Regions from separate parts of the Homo sapiens genome. Here region 2 is linked to region 1. The links come from fine-mapping of genetic effects on gene expression. Tissue or cell type: subcutaneous fat. Region 1 holds a variant in brackets; the other region holds the start of a gene. All regions are shown on one strand. Distances are between the middles of the regions.

Region 1 (8,300 bases):
TGACTGCTGAGGCACAGGGAAGGTAGGAAACTTGTCCAAGGTCATGCTCTTCCTGCCTGACATATTTGGGATTTTTGAATCTAAGCAGGGGAGCTTGGTGCTCTTACCTGATAGCGAACCCTGCACAGTGAGGTGGGCCCCGGGCCACTCAGCCTCACACCTGTGTAGAGACATGACCCAAGTAGCTGGGGAAGGGCAGAGGTGGGTCTGAGGCCACCTGCTTCAGAGGAACAAGTGGCACTGGCTGTTCCTCCAGCCCCACGCCCCAAATCTCTGCTTCTCCATCAGGCAGCAAAACAAAGACTGGAAGGACGTGAGGGCTGCCTGGGGGTTGGGGCAAGGGAGGACCTTTGTTCAAGAGCTTCCATGTTTGTATGATGTCTTTCAGGACAGTGTCCAAATGTATGTCTGTACACTTAGTATGGTATTCCCCAGTCTGAACATGTGTTCCCTTCCTCTGCCTCCTGGAGTGCTGCTCCCAGCCTTGCAAAGCTAAGTGACGGCCAGAAACTAAGCAGGCAGGCCGGGCGTGGTTGCTCACGCCTGTAATCCCAAAACTTTGGGAGGCTGAAGTGGGTGAATCACCTGAGGTCATGAGTTCGAGACCAGCCTGGCCAACATGGTGAAACCCAATCTCTACTAAAAACACCAAAAAAAAAAAAAAAAAAAAAATTAGCCGGGCATGGTGGTGGGTGCCTGTAATCCCAGCTACTCGGGAGGCTGAGGCAGGAGAATCGCTTGAACCCAGGAGGCAGAGGTTGCAGTGAGCCGAGATTGTGCCATTGCACTCCAGTCTGTGTGACAAGAGCGAAACTCCACCCCCCCCAAAAAAAAAAAAAAAAAAAAAAAACTAAGCAGGCGGAGGAAGGGGACAGCATGACGAGAGTAAAGGACCCAGGGGATCTGTGGTTTTCTGGCTCTCTGGCTGTAGCACATCCTGGAGGAGTCAGCAAGCACAGCCTCGTCAGTGTCCCCCAGGGCGGCGGCTGCAGCAGCAAGGGGATTTTTTTTAACGTGGTGTGGCAAAGAGGCTTCGTGTCCACTCAGCTGCCAGTCTAAGGACTTCTGTCGTCTTTGCCGACTCAGAGACGTCCAGACACTGAGCTGTTATTTCAAGTACATTTCTCCTGTTCATCTTGCCGGGAAAAATGACCTTTTAATGCTCCTAATAAATAAGGATGTAACCAGAGGTGGGGGTTGTCCTGCAGTCAGGGACAGTTGGCACCAATGACAACCAGGGTCCTGAGGGAGACCTTCTACTCCACCCATGTCAGCCATCCAAAATGCAGCTGTTTCTTAGAGTGAGGACACTGGCTCAGGGTTCCCCATTCTCTCACAGGCTTGAGAGGAGAAAGGGGTCCACTGTCTCACGTCCTGTCCCTGCAGATTCTGGGGAATGAAATGCAGTCGTCTGATATAGATCCCCAAAAAGGTGTCATTGAGACCTACTCAGCATCCTTCTTATCAAGAATAAAGGACCCTGTGGCTTGGCAGGGGAGTGCTGTTCTGGCCTTCCTCTGAACCACAGTGGCGTATCCTGGGTGCTTTGGTTCTACGAACTTATGGGGTAGAAGCAAAGCAGGCATGAGCACAACCTGATCGACTGTGCAACACAATGCTTAAACCAACCTCCAAATGATCTATCCCTAGAATAGCAGCACCCCTGCCTCCTAAGGCTGACATTATTTGCCTACAACTAGGTTCTCATTTGCCGGGAAGCCTCCTTTCAACCACCTCTCTCTCTGCCGCCTTCCAGATCTTGTCCACTTTGATATTCCCTCGATCCACATAGAGCTCGGGTCGACGCTCCGCCTGAGTCCCCTGGAGCACATGCGGCGACACTCAGTAACTGACAAGAGGGACTCGGAGGAGGAGTCTGAGAGCACCGCCCTCTGACATGACACCGCCCATCCTGCCTCGCGTGTACATACATCACGGGCCCTAGGAACGCCGCCAGGAGCAGCGTCCATGAGCTTGCCAAGTGTTCTCTGCTGGCTCTTTCCTGCCACTGCCAACACGAGGTTGGAATTTGGCAGAAAATTGTGATCTCCAGTCCGTGTGGTGATGCTGGTGGTGCAGGTTTTGTTTGTTCCTTTCGGGTGGTGACTTCGGCCTTTTGTTTGACCTTTGCCTTTTGACTTTGTGCCTCTTTTGATCCACTTTCAGCCTCCATGCCAGAAAACACCCACCTCTCCATCCAAGGCTGGTCAGGAACGTCCTTTGCAGGGTCGGGGTGGTGCGGGAGAGGCTCACTTTGCCTGGTTAGACCCAAGGGCTGCTACCTTTTCCTTGGACGGCTCATGTCAGGTCTTGCAGGATCAGTTTAATGGCCACAGAAAGGAAGCAGGACAGCAGGGCCCCTCTCACCCACAACTGGACCAGGTCCAGGATTCTAGCAGTCCTGGGGCACTGACCTTTGCCAGCTACCTGGGGGAGGGCTTGCCACTGGAAAACCTTTCAGGCCGCCCCCATCAGTGGGCTCCAAAGTAAATGGCTGAAAACAAAAATGTTTCACTTCCTAACAGTTTTCCTTTTTCCACTGTGTGACTGAAAGCTCCTATATCATTTTATATTTCTGAATCTATAAAACAAAACAAACAAGCCTGACAGTGTCTGGAGGAGCCAAAGGTGGCCTCCCTGTCCCCAAATATATTGGCTATATGAGAGTAATTTTACCCCTCTACGTACCTAAAGGCACCCAGTTCACTAGTCTGTGGGGTCCTGGAGCCTGTCTCTTCTTTCTGGAGGTTCAAACTGAATAGCAATAATTACGTTACCCAAAGCATGTGGAGGAAAAGTGAAACCAGCCACGGAGACGCTGGCCCACGGGCTCGGCCTGCGGTGTGGCCTGCTTTGCTCACCAGCGTCAGCCGCTCATTTCCTTCTCATGAAGTCCCATCTGGTCATGGGGACGAGGGCCGGGAGGGCACCGGGTAGCCTTTTCACACTTGGGGATTAGGGGAGTGAGAAAAGATTTGGGCCATGCATGCAAAGTCAAAGTTTAAAATTTTATCCTTTTCAAATAGATGATATAATATACCTATACATGATATAATATTTGTATATATGAAATCTCTCTATATTTGTTTAATTTGAGCCATTCAATCTAAACCAATGTACAGGTGTACAATGAAAAATTTAAATGCTTAGTTATTTTTCCCAACACAGTGTAAAGTCACCCTCCTCTGAGAGTGGGATGTGCAGAGTTTTGATGTTGCAGCTTTGCTCACTTCCTGGCAAGGGCAGGTCATGCCTCAATTTGTAATGGGAGTCTGGGGTAAGGGTGGGGGTTGAAAGTTGTTATCTTTAAATACATGTACAAATCGTTGTCAAAAGTAACGTTATTAAAATAGATTTATTATCCCTGAGCTTGGCATCTGTTCTTGCTTTAATAAACCTGCGGGGACATGGCCGTCAATCTCAAATGCACACCGGGATGGAGCCTGAAGGTCACCACCTGTGTAAAGCCAGGTCCCTGGCTGATCTCTCGCTTGCTTGTCTTTTGAGTTTTTAAAGCTCTTCTTTTTACATTCTCCTGGGTAGGGAATATACACAATAAATACTAGATTCAACTTACTTACTTACTTACTTACTTTACTTACTTACTTCCTTGGAAAATGCTCTCCATTTGTCGAGCACTAATCCACGTCTGTAAATCCCGCAAGGAGGACAATGGAAACCAGCCCCGTGTGCCATTTCTCAAAACCTTCGAGGGCAAAGTGATCCTCACTCCTCTCAGTATGGAAGCAACAACACAGCAAATCTATTGTCTCCACTTTTACCCAGAACCACCAGAAGACTTGCATTTCCCTGACCAATGACACCAGCCCAGCCAGGCTCTCACTGATTGATTTGATTGATTGATTGATTGATTGATAGAGAAAGCACGCCCTGCTGTGAGCTGGCACAGCTCGAGTTGTCAAAAAGACTTGGCGAATAAGGGTGGCTCTCTGAGGACAGGTTCCAGAGGTGCTCACTACGACGGGAGCTGACTTCTTCCAAGCCACCCGGGTACCAGGCAGCTGCCACACTACAGCACAGAGAGCCTTCTCCAAGGTGGTGCACAGCAGACCCTGCTCTGTAGCAGCAGCAGGAGGAAGCAAAAGAACTCACAATTGCAAACTCAATCTTTATTGCAGCTGAAATACTATTTTCGTTAAGTCTCGGACACTTAGACCCACTGATCCTGTTACTCTGCTTGTCTCTGGTGTGCAGGGAATCACTTTGCTGGATTAGAGGAAAGGTGCCGCCGTCTGTTTCCAAGACTTCTTTAAAAACTGCCTTGAAATGAAATTAGTTCATCTGCTTGCTTCCGTGTGGCAGCCTCCTGGCCCGCGGCTGTGCCAGGCACCAGTCCTAAGAGGCATCTATAGACTAGTGCTTATGTGGGAGCCCAAGCCTCGGCACAGCTCCATACCACCTATCCTGAGCTGCCTCCTGGGGGACCGTGCTCTTCAGCTTCTACCAGCAAGGAGGGCAGATACGGGTGCGTGCGTGGGGCAGAAGACACACAGCCTTCTGAGTTCAGGGTCTCCCAGATCTTCACTGGGCTCTGACCTTCTTGGCCTGTGGCTCCTCTGTGTGGGCCCGCTTCTGCTGAGGCTCCCCATCCTCCAGGCCGCCTGCCAGCTCCCTGGACAGGAGGGCCGCCCGCACCTGCCGCAGCTCCCGCTTCTCCCTGCGCTCCTCCATCTCCTCGATGTCGCCAGCAAACAGGGCTTTCAGTGGGGGAATCAGCTTGGGCATTGTTGGAAAGTCTCCAAAGCAGACCTAGAAGACACAATAGAAGACAAGGACATGTCTCAGAGGGGCAGGGGTGGGGGACAGGAGCTGGAAGGGATGCAGTCATGTGCTCACACAGCAGCGCCAACGCCCCTTCCTTGGCACAAGCCAACAGGCCACAGCTGAAATGGAAAAAAGAATGGCATGGAGGGAACCCTCTAAAGGGGCAGAGGCTCCC[C/T]AGGCCTGGCTAAGGGCCTCCGGAGAGGGAAGGGAGAGCAGTCCAGATGCTCTCAAAATCAAGCTCCTGAAAAACGAGGCCTGGCTCCGGCTCTGCCCCTTCATTCCGGAAGGCCAAGGGTCAGGCCTGGCTTTCCCACTCACAAGAGGCAACCACCTGTCTCACAGGTCTGTGCTGAGGCTCAAATGCCATGACTGTGTGAGCAGTCCAGGCCTAAAAGGATTCTCAGAAATTTCCAGTGAACTGAGACTGAAGACTAGTTGGCCCCTGCAGGAGGTGGGTCTCACCAGCAAACCCAGGGTGGTTCGACCTGGTTAGTGATGGGTAGATAACCTTTTCCCACGGTGGCCCCAAATAAGAAAGCAAACTCCAGCTGACCGTCCTACTCAGTGTGTAGAGTCCTGTCTCCCTGCCCCGTCCCCGCCCTGTGCTGTCCGTGTGACATACAGACCTTCATGTGGTCAAAGGCAACTCCCACTTTCTCGCTGAAGTTGGGGCTGAAGAGGGGGACCTTGGCATAGCGCTGGCTGAAGTGGTTCAGCATAATGAACTCCGCGTTCATCCGCATCCCCACGCTGATGGCTTGGGACGTTGTGCTGCAGGTGAAGGACAGAGCAGACTGAAGCTGAACTCAACTGCAAGACTGCAAAGCAGACAGTGGCACAGACCCTGGCCATCAACTGCCAGGGCACCCGGGGAAGCTGGTGGGTTTTCTTAACGGGCACCTCCGTAGCCAGCACAATCTCCCCTGAGGGCCAGAGCCTTCGCACACACCCCTGGATGAAGCCCACCCTCTGTGCTGGCTGCCAAATCTGTCCATGAGGGCACCCAAGAGAAACCACAGGGCCCACCTGGGGTAATGCACTCTTTCGTTGAAATTAGCAGCCAAAAATTCAGTCCCCCAGCCCCCGCCTTCCCCTGGCAATTCCCTGACATGGCTTATAGTTTATTCAGCCGATTTCTAGATGCTTTCAAAAAACTGTGCCTCACTCTAGAATCTTGCTTAGAAAATTCTGCAAAAATAAAGGCCAAGAGCCTGTGAGCACTGCCACAGGTCAAGGAAGCCCCCATAGCCCTTGATAGGAAGCAGGGCAGCCCCACATCAGTGGAGACAAACGACGGCTGCTCAGTGTCACGTAGTGGGGGAGGGAGAGGATGTGGGCGACAAGGACTGACCGGCCTTTGCTACCTGTGTGTCTTTTCCACTGCTTCCTCTTCCAAACCATCTTCCAGGGTGGCTTCATGTATCAGGAGGGTGGCATCTTTCCCTGGAGAAGCAGCACAAGGATCAGGGCAGAGTTCTCTGCGAGAGCGGCACACAGGCCTCAGTCACGTGCTGTTTCCTGGTCTCAACACTCAGCTCCCCTGGCCCTGGGTCTGCCTACTAGGATGACAACCAGAGACTCTGAGGGTGGGGACCTGAGTCTCCTGCCTCTGCTGACGTTTCCCTGCAAGCCCACCTGCATTCACCTCCAGCTACACAAACCCCAGAGCAACCTCAGGGTGGCTTGCTTCTTCCTCTACTCACCCATCCGGACCAGAGCCTCGCAGGGCATGGTGTCCCCGGAATAGACCACTTTCCAGCCAGAGGTGTGCACCAGCGCACAGCCAAACGCATGCTTGCAGTGCCGCACCAGACAGGTCTGAAACTGAAAGGGTGGGGCTGGAGGGCTCTGCAGCTCTGCTCCCCACCTCGCCCCCATGATGCCTGCGGCTGTGCCCCTTACCTCTTCCAAATCACATGTTCGCAACAGCGAACTGATCAATCTTTCCACTGCAGGACTGGAGATCTCAGCCCCTTCCTGAAGGCATTTGGCAGGAATCATACTGTAAAAAGACAAAACATTTAAAATGATAATAAACGTTTCTTGGACATCTGGAACCAAAGTTTAAGTCTTTGGCTGGAGAACCCCAAAATCATTCTTAGGAGAAAACATGAGTTAAATCATAGTCACTATGATGAGGAAACAGCAGTCAAATATAAAGAGCCAAACCAAAGCCTCTAGGCCACTGGGAGAAACCCAGCAGGTGAATGCTGCCTCCGGCTCAGGCAGCACGGGCCACGGATGGCTCCAGCAGAGGGGACTCCTTCCCCTTGGGGTGAGGATGGTGCCACCTGCCAGCTAGCCACACACCTGCTATGGACATTCTCTGTGCTAGCCACTATTTGGGTGCTTGGCTCTGGAACTGTCTCATCAAGAAAAGCTGCTCGAAGTTTAGAAAGCAGCTCAGAACTCAAATGAGGACTGGGAAGAAATGCTTCTAAGAAAATAAGCATTACATGGGAACTATCTAATGGTTTCTGTCCTTCAGCCAATGCACTTCTCCCCTGCTTCTGCCATCTGGGACCATGTCAAGGGCAAGGCTGCTGGGGGATATTGGTAACTACCCCAGTGTCCACCTTGAGCTTCTGAAGGAGACGGCAGCAAGCAACAGCCCAGCGGGCCAGGCTGCCCTGGATGCTCACCTGATGTGGTGCAGGACCTCCTGGCACTGGTTGTGGTACTGCTGGAGCCAGGCTTTGAGCTGGTTGGGGGCAACCACCAGCAAAGGGTGAAGCGGCTTTCCCAAAGATGCCTGGAACAAAAAATGCAAGTGCCGACTCGACGACAGAACATCTCAATAAAAACTGGAGTGCCAAGAGGCATGGCGGATGATGTGTAAACCGCTGAAACTCAGAACGCCCATCAAGTGCCACACTTACCAAGGCGCGTTCTCTCTGCAGCAAGATACTTGGCAAGCCCTGGCAAGGAAACAGGAGACATGCGTCAGCCAGGCCCCAGGGCCATCCCCTCCGGGTTAGGGTCTGCAGCCCTCTCTCTTGCAGGAGTTGCCAGCCCGACGTCACCCACCAGCCTCTAACACAGCCGCAGTGGGGGTGGCACAGGCCGAGCCCCCTGCGCCATGGCCCTGAAATGTCACAGGCAGAAAGCGACACGACCCGTGCTGGGAAGAGGGCAACGGCCCAGGGCCCGGCACCCCAGGAGACCAAGGTGAGGGTCTCATAGCCACACCTCCTGCATCCGGTCAAAGCTTCCGCTGAGCAGGCCGTGTGAGATTCAAGACTCAAGGAAGGCTGGGTAAACTCAAACCTGTCCTGCTGCAGGAAAGGAACTGAACAGGAAGAGAAGACATTCTTGTGGCGCAGAAGGACTATGTTGAGTTTTGCAAAAAACCATTTCCTAGCCAGAGATGAGTAACAAAAGCTCTGGGCAAGTTTGGAAGCGGAGGAAAAGACGCAGCCAAAGGGCCAACTCAACGTGGCAGTGCCTCCTCCAGGCTCCAGCTTTGTGGTCCAGCCCAACACTCACCGTGTGGTGATCTGCGTGCAGGTGGGACA
Region 2 (8,326 bases), 26 kb after region 1:
AAAAAAAAAAAAAAAAAATCTCGTGGTGATGAAGCATTTGATTTTGAGGTTTGATGTTGATGTTTTTAATGGATTCTAATTTGAGAGGTCAGGGCATATATAAGTTAGAAATAGCAGAGGATGAGTCACAGACAAAGACGTACCCAGTTCTATTCCTTTCAATGGACCAGAAAATATTTTGATTGCTTCGAGGTATTTTTCCTAATGAAAAACAAAGAAATGAGCAGTTATGGTTGAACAAATGTAGAACACAGCAACTATTCAAGTATTTAAAAGGTTACCAATAGGTATCAACATAAAACAAAGCTTAGTAAATATTTTGAACATCATTTATTACAAATATTTACTGAGTATCCATTATATCAGATGCCAAGGATATAGCAGGAAAAAGAGATGGAGGCCTTGCTCTAATCAGGCCAGTGGAGGAGACAAAAGGAAACACGATAACAGAAACAGCTTAGTGGCATTATGCTAAGTGCTCTGCAAGGAAAATGAAAAATACAGAAGGCTGGGATCCAACTTGTCTAGAGAAGAAGAGGCAGTTCTGGAGTAAATGACCCTCTAGCTGAGCCCTGAAGGTTCAGTAACAATATAGGCAGCAATTAGAAGAGGCAGAGGGAACCCGCGGAAGGGCGAAAGTCCTGAAGTGGCCAGGGAGTTAGAGGGACATAAGAGTCAGCCCATGCAGCTGCAGTTCAGCGATGGGTACAGATGGAAGTGTGGGTAGCGGCCGGGGCCTACAGGACTTGTAGGCCATATCAAGGTGTTTTGATTGTATTGCAATGGGGAGCCCATGAAGGGCTTTAGGGTGGCAAGTGACACACTACTTTTCTGTCTTGAAGTGACCTCTCTGGCTGCTGTGTGGCAGATGGATTACAGGAAGGCGAGAATGAATATGGGAGGCTATTGTAGTTTACAGGCATAGAAAACAGAAATAAGGAAGGCCTCAATAAGAGACAAATGGATGGATTTCAAACGTTATTTTGGGGAAAGACTTAACAGGTCTTGGTGACTTTCTTCTTAAGGACTGGAAAATGAACTGTTATATTCAACAACACACACACGCCTTCTCAAGAGTGTAATAAGCTGGACTGAAAGGTAAGAAGATGTCAGAAATTTATTGAATAAAAACAAAAGCTGCCCTTTCTTGTGTGCCTACTTGGTGCCAAACATATATCTAATAAAGTGATTTAGTGCTTTATATGTGCTGCTACGTCATTTAATCTTTAACAACTCTATGAAACGTGATAGTCATCTTATAGATGAATAAACTAAAGCTCAGAAAGGTAAAGTAACTTGATCAAGGTCACATAGTTAATCAGAACTCAAGTCTTTTTAACTTGAAAGGGGAAGCGTTTCAACGACCAGGTATCTCTGGAGGGCAGAAGACTGATTTGCAAAAAGGAAAATTCTTGTTACTGATATTACAAAAGGAAAGATTGCTTTTGAAAGATGTGTCAGGAAAGACTCACCAGTTGTGGAGGTCCAGAAAGTACACACTTTGGAAGCCCGGTTTCCTTTAAAGTAAGAATCATTCCTAAAAAGGATGCATAAAATCAGATCTCTCATCAATTTGACCTGTCGTCACTAACAGGAGGAGCACCCCGTACTAATCCAACTATTTATCTACATCTCCACCTTCCAGCTTTGGAAGTACAACCAGGGAAGATGTACAGAGCAGAAGTGATGCCAGCTAGAGGTGTAACAGACACCAAATATTCTTTAAATGCCTCTAGAATGGGCTGAGCTGTCACTAGGGTGAAGCAGCAAGGCACCCAGTGTGCAAAATGTAAGGAATCATGCAAGTGAAGGGCTGGCACCCTAAGTGCCTCACCCTAGTCTCAGCCCTGAGAAGGGAGACTGGTCTAACACTTCACTCCTTCCGGTCCATGCCACCAAGCCCACACAATTTGGCTGCAACACAATCCTGACCTTCCGGTTGATAGACATAAATGACAGGGTAATCTGGACAGTGGGTATGTGTGTGGCTGCCAATGTGCCAATGGCGTCTGCGGTAAACATATTAACTGTAATCACCACTGCTAGACTCTCCAGTTTACTGCCACAAATCTCTGTCCCCGCAACGCAAGAAACTAAGTGGATGGTAACACTTAAGAGGTGGTATCCATATTAAAATCTGTTCTCCTGAGTCACAGCTTTTAATGCTCTGTGCTGCTGCTGACTGGGCTGGTATAAAAAGAATTCCAGGCCAGGTGCGGTGGCTCATGCCTGTAATCCCAGCACTCTGGGAGGCCGAGACAGGAGGATCGCAGAAGTTTGAGACCAGCCTGGGCAACATAGCAAAACCCCGTCGCTACAAAACATACAAAAAAAATTAGCCAGGTGTGATGGGGCACACGTGTGGTCCCAGCTATTTGGGAGGCTGAGGTGAGGGGATCACCTGAGCCCAGAAGGCAAAGGTTGCAGTGAGCCAAGATCACGCCACTGACAAAAAAAAAAAAAAAAAAAAAAGTAGCTGCCCACCCCAGACTTGGAAAAATGGTAAAGCCGGTTAAAATCCCAGAGACTTCCCACCAGCCTCTGACACTGCAAAGAATATACTCACCACTTAAGCCCCCAACATTAGACCAGTGCATTCGTGTCAGGAATATGTTGTCCAGGCGAGCAACCTTTAACCTAAGAATGAAAAAACATTTAAACAGGATAACATGAACAGAACAAGGACCACTTTTGCTATAAAAAACAACTGGCCTCTCATTTCGGCTTTCAAGCCCCGTAATCAACTCCCCCTCCGAAAGCAAGAGACTGACTCACTTGTGCTCCTGCATGAGTCTCTGAACGCCTTCTCCACAGTTGAAGAGATACCTACAAGACAAACATTACACAAGACATTCAGAAGGTTTTATTCTGTAAACTCTCTGACACCAATTAGATGTTTTATTGTAGACTCTGGAAAAAAAAAAAAGAAAAAAAAATTAAAAGTCCACGTTGGACTACCGAGCCACATTTATGCTGGTGGGTTTTGAGCCCTCCTTAGCAGAGGTGGAGAGGAGTGGGGGCCTGTGTGTGTGGGTGCTAGGACAAAATGAGTCCTTTCTCCACCACCGGCTACACACCAGATCTGTCCACCCCACACGCTAACAACGACACACTGGCCTTGGGGTGCACGGAAGAGGGTGGAGCTCCGAAAGTGCTGACAGCCAGGCCGGGGCCCAAGGGTTGGGAAAAGGACGCTCAGACCCAGGCCTGAAGTTCTTCACAGATCCGCAGAAATCACATGGATGCAAAGAATCTCGGATTTCCCACCCACCATAACTCCACGAACCCCCGCAACAGTGAACCACATGTGTGAAGCAGGGAAGCCGAAGCCCTGGGAGGTGCCCCGATGCTCAGAGGCTGCGCCGCACTGAGGGCCCAGCGGGACGGGGCGTGGCTCGTTGACTGACCGGTTGAACTCGGAGAAGACGTAGAGCGCGGCGCCCGAGTCCCGGCTACCCGCTGCCACCACCTGCAGGTACACGGTGTTTGGGCCGCCGGAGCACCCCGACGGTCCGCGCTTCTCTCGCGTGCGCAGGTGCCGCAGCGGGTCCTTGCGCGGCCGCTCGCGGCGGGCGGGTGCCTGCGATATGGTGCGTCCCTGCGACATGGTGCGTCCGGCCGCGGACCGCAGCAGCGAGCAAAGCGCCCACATGCGCCCGTCTCCACCAAAACTGAGAAAGCCGCCGGTCACCTACGCCCGCGTTTCCCGTGCACCACCTAGCCGCTCCGCATGGCGGATCCAGCCAATCAGCGCGCCGTGCACCGAGCTTCCCGCCTACGCGAGGCTGCTCATCCAATAGAAAGGAGCTTTACCGCTCGGGACTTGTCAATTGACAGTGGCCATAGAGTAGAGGAATACTAGAGCGTCTCAAGCGGCCCCGCCCCTAGTTCTGTTCCGGTTTGCCGGCCGCAATTTTTTCCGGAAGCTGTTTTTCTCCTGGGGCGGGACTTCCGGAAGCACAGTGCCAGGAAAAGCCTTCCTGGGGAAGGCGGGACCTAGGAGTTTGGAGTTTCGCTAAAACGCTCCTGTTCTCACCAGATAAGAGCTGTGTCCTCCGGGCACGTCAGTCCCTCAGAGCTTGAGTTAGAGGTGGTTGTAGTGGTTGTGAGGATTAAATGTGAGGAAATCAATTGTATTGAGCATTAGCATAAGCGCTTTGCTAATTTTATTTCCATTGTAATTCGTATGCATACATGTTAGAACTTGATCATTTTTACGTGGTGTCCCGAGCTTGTAGTCCCAGCTACTTGGGAGGCTGAGGCAGGAGAATCGCTTAAGCGCGGAGGCGGAGGTTGCGGTGAGTCGAAATCGCGCCACTGCACTCCAGCCTGGGTGACACCTCGAGACCCTGTCTCAAAACAAAACAAAACAAAACAAAAATTGTAGTGTTTTTTGGAAAGAAAAGCAAGAATAGAGGACAAGCTCTAAAGCAAGAGTCTTGGCTCATTTGTTAGCTGCGTGATCTTGACCTCTCAGAGCCTCAGCTTTCTTATGTGTAAAATGTAATAACAGCAATAACAGTATCTCCTACTTCAGAATATAGAATTCAGTCACCTGATAATATATCAATAGACCTTTGAGTGGCACTGTCACAGAAGAGGCACCCAGTAAATGATAGAAAATTAATACAAAATGTTTCAACTCCTAGACAATATAGCTGACCAGGGACATCACAGAGGTAGATGTCCCAATACCAGCTTTTTGAAAAAAACACCCAGTCCCCTCTTATGTAGCTAATGAGGATTTCTCACTGAAAGGGATATCAGTTAAAGCCGCTAGAAATACAGGGAGCTCCCTTAAAAGAGGAAGATAATTTACCTGGAAGCTCCACTCAAATATGATTTTTTAAAGATAATTTACCTGGAAGCTCCACTGACATATGATTTTTTTAAATAAATACTGAAAGATGTCACTTTTATTCAGGAAGTAAGGGAGATTCAAGTCATGTAGATTCCTACTCGAAAATCTTGACACCTGACTTTCCAGGATCACATTTTCATATGGAGACCAGTTTCCTCTTGGTTTCTTCAGTTAAGTCAAAACTACACGTTCCTCTTTCCCCATATATTTTTGCTCATTAGTGTATTTCTTGAGCTGTTTTCATTCAAATATGAAATTTTTTATGGAAGATTATCACCCACGGTGTGAAAACGTTTTGTACTTGAAATAACCATCCCAGTGAGGGTCAGGAAAACACTTCAGATCTACTTTACACAGTTAGAGGGCGTTACAAACTGAAAAGATTATCATACCACCATCTCCATAAGTATTTGAAATAAAAATGATAGTTTTTAAAAGTTGCTTAAAGCCTGGGCACCGTGGCACATATCTGTAATCCCAGCACTTTGGGAGGCCAAGGCGGGAGAATAGCTTCAGGCTAGTAGTTCAAAACCTGCTCTGTGGCCAGGCATGGTGGCTTATGCCTGTAATCCCAGCACTTTGGGAGGCCGAGGCAGGTGGATCACCTGAGGTCAGGAGTTCGAGACCAGCCTGGCCAACATGATGAAACCCCGTCTCTACTAAAAACACAAAAATTAGCCGGGAGTGGTTGCATGGGCCTGTAATCCCAGCTACTGGGGAGGTTGAGGCAGGAGAATCACTTGAACCCCAGAGACAGAGGTTGCAGTGAGCCAAGATCACACCATTGCACTCCAGCCTGGGTGACAGAGGGAGATTCCATCTCAAAAACAAACAAACAAACCAGCTCTGGCAACAAAGCGAGACCTCATCTCTACCAAAAAATACTAAAAAATTTAAAAATAAGTAAAAATTAGCTGGACATGGTGGCACACACCTGTTGTCCCAGCTACTCTGAAGGCTGAGACAGGAGGATCACATGAACCCAGGGGTTTGAGGCTGCAGTGAGCTATGATCATACCACTTTACTCCAGCCTGGCTGACAGAGTGAGACACTCTCTACAAAAAAAAAAAAAAAAAAAAAAGAAAAAGAAAATTAATTCATTAAAACTACTTTTAAAAAGTGTAGTGCAATAAATAAAATACTGATTTTTTTCCTGTGATGACTGCTTTGATCCTTTTAAAAAATATATCAAATTTCACAAACAAAAATACATTGGTTCCTCTATTTTATTGGTGCCCTATGTGCATATCTATCTGTTGGGTAATCTCAAACTACTTATCTCAAAATTATAGGAGGAATCACTTTTGGTCATCGACTTATATAAAATTCTGAGGGCTGGATGCTATTTAGGTTGTTTCTAGGGCCCAGTGTACTTTCTGCACTTATGCTTTGGGTCATATTTTTATTCCTGGTATATGAAGACAATAGCTAGTACTTCTTCAATCTGAGGTTATACTGGAATGTAAATTTCATGAGCCTGGGATTTGTCTATCTGGTCCTCTGCTGTATCATTAGCTCCTAGGACAGAGTCTGGCTTGTGGCAGACAATAAATACTAGGAAATTAGAAGCAAGCCAGTAGCTTAAATGAGGTTTTCAGTTTACAACTAAGCAGGGCCTAAAATTGAATCAAGACAACAATGTATGTGTTTTCTGAAGGGGATTGGTGTGACTGGTACCTCCAAAAGGATAGTTCAGAGAGTCTGAAACAGAAAAGTGTCTCTGGACTTGCTGGAGTAGAGGCAGCCTGACCATCGGGACAGCAGAGAAAGTGGAAATCGAGGCGACAGACTTTCAGAAGTCAGTGATATTAACAATTAATATAATACAGCCACTTCCTCTTGCTTTGAGTCTCTTTTTGTTATCCATTTTGTATATGGGCAGCTTGTGGCTTGAAATCACTTTCAGTCCTTTTGTTGGTCACGGTTGTGTTTAGTAAGAATAGCCTGTCTCTGCTCCTTGCAGTGGCTGCTGGGTGGCTCAATGGGAGTGGAACCTCACACTCACAGGTGTGGGTCCTGGGTACTGGCCCTGCTGGGGGTGCTTTGGTTCATTTCCCATTGCCTCTCCATCCATGTAGACTGTCCACATTCAGTAGTTAGGCTGAGCTTCTCTGAATGGTGGTCAGCCTCCAAAAGGATGAAATGAAATTGCAATGCTTCTGAAGAATTAGGCCCAGAAGTCAACGCAAGACACAGACAGCACCCACCTAGATTCAAAGGGAGGAAAATTATATTCTACCTCTTGAGGGGAGAAGTATCAAAGTCACATTGCAAAAGAGCCCTTGACGTGGAAAAGTCCAGGCTTTCTTGGAACCCTCTGATTATCCTACGGGGGGGTCCTATGAAGAGATGGCTGCCAGGCAGAATAATCTGGCCAATGAATGCTGGGAGCAGTACATTTTCATATGCCTGTAGTTACAAAGGTATAATTTATAACTTGACTTTCTTCTGTACACGCTTGTAAGTATGGTTGCCATAAGCTAGTCCACTCATATGTGGCCATCTCTTGGGTATATTTATAAATCAGACTTTTGTACCTACAAAGCTGGGGCAGTTCCTGCGATCCCCAAGATCTGGTGATCTGACCAAGGGACACATACTTTGGGACCCTGTCTGAAATACCCTCTGGCTTTCTCCACACAGACATTCATTCATTGATTCATTCAGTACACTCACACACACACACACACGAGTTTCTAGACACTCTTCTAGGGTTCTAGATGCTGTACTAAGACCTTGGTGTACAGAAAGATGAACAAGGTCTTGCTCTCAGAAAGCTCAGAAAGTTGGTGTCTTGGGCACAGGGATGGGGCCCCAGGGCACACAGGAAAACATTATAATAGATGCTTTTGTCTTCATTGGGTCTGAGGTGTTTCTGGTTTAGAGCCCTAGAAACCCAACAACTCCAAACTTGATGGCCACAATGCATCAGAGGGATAATTGGTTTTTGAAACAAAAGTTACTTTGGGCTGGGCACGATGGCTCACAACTGTAATCCCAGCACTTTGGGAGGCCCAGGCGGGTGGATGACTTGAGGTCAGGAGTTTGAGACCAGCCTGGCCAACATGGCGAAACCCCGTCTCCACTAAAAATACAAAAATTAGCTAGGCGTGGTGGTGGGCACCCGTAACCCCAGCTGCTCAGGAGGCTAAGGCAGGAGAATCACTTGAACCCGGGAGGCGGAGGTTGCAGTGAGCCAAGATCGTGCCATTGCACTCCAGCCTGGGCAACAGAGCGAGACTCAGTCTCAAAAAAAAAAAAAAAGTCTGCAGTCACGTACAGCAATGTCCTAGACCTTCACATTCACTCACTGATGCACCCCAGGCAACTTACAATCCTGCAAGTTCCATTCATGGTAAGTGCCTTATTCAGGTGCTAATTTCTTTCTTTCTCTCTTTCTTTCTTTCTTTCTTTCTTTCTTTCTTTCTTTCTTTCTTTCTTTCTTTCTTTCTTTCTTTCTGTCT

What was found. PIP is the estimated chance that this variant, and not a neighbour inherited with it, causes the effect.
Region 2: ELAC2 starts here. The variant in region 1 is fine-mapped to the expression of ELAC2 in subcutaneous fat (GTEx, PIP 0.99).

The regions. Positions count from the first base shown.
Region 1 is chr17:12,988,276-12,996,575 of GRCh38, forward strand. It overlaps ARHGAP44 (Rho GTPase activating protein 44), which reads left to right. Exons shown (of 21, transcript NM_014859.6): 21 at 1,757-3,368. The coding sequence ends at 1,896. ELAC2 (elaC ribonuclease Z 2) reads right to left here. Exons shown (of 24, transcript NM_018127.7): 17 at 8,272-8,300; 18 at 7,665-7,703; 19 at 7,428-7,537; 20 at 6,688-6,787; 21 at 6,489-6,609; 22 at 6,150-6,228; 23 at 5,412-5,556; 24 at 3,337-4,770. The coding sequence ends at 4,543. Among named protein-coding and RNA genes, the nearest start is that of ELAC2, 26 kb to the right of the region's middle. The variant C/T (reference allele first, on the strand shown) is at 4,961.
Region 2 is chr17:13,014,296-13,022,621 of GRCh38, forward strand. It overlaps ELAC2 (elaC ribonuclease Z 2), which reads right to left and starts at 3,732. Exons shown (of 24, transcript NM_018127.7): 1 at 3,408-3,732; 2 at 2,776-2,826; 3 at 2,567-2,637; 4 at 1,473-1,537; 5 at 144-201. The coding sequence starts at 3,652. RefSeq lists enhancers at 3,048-3,548, 3,060-3,169, 3,190-3,249 and a silencer at 3,770-3,849.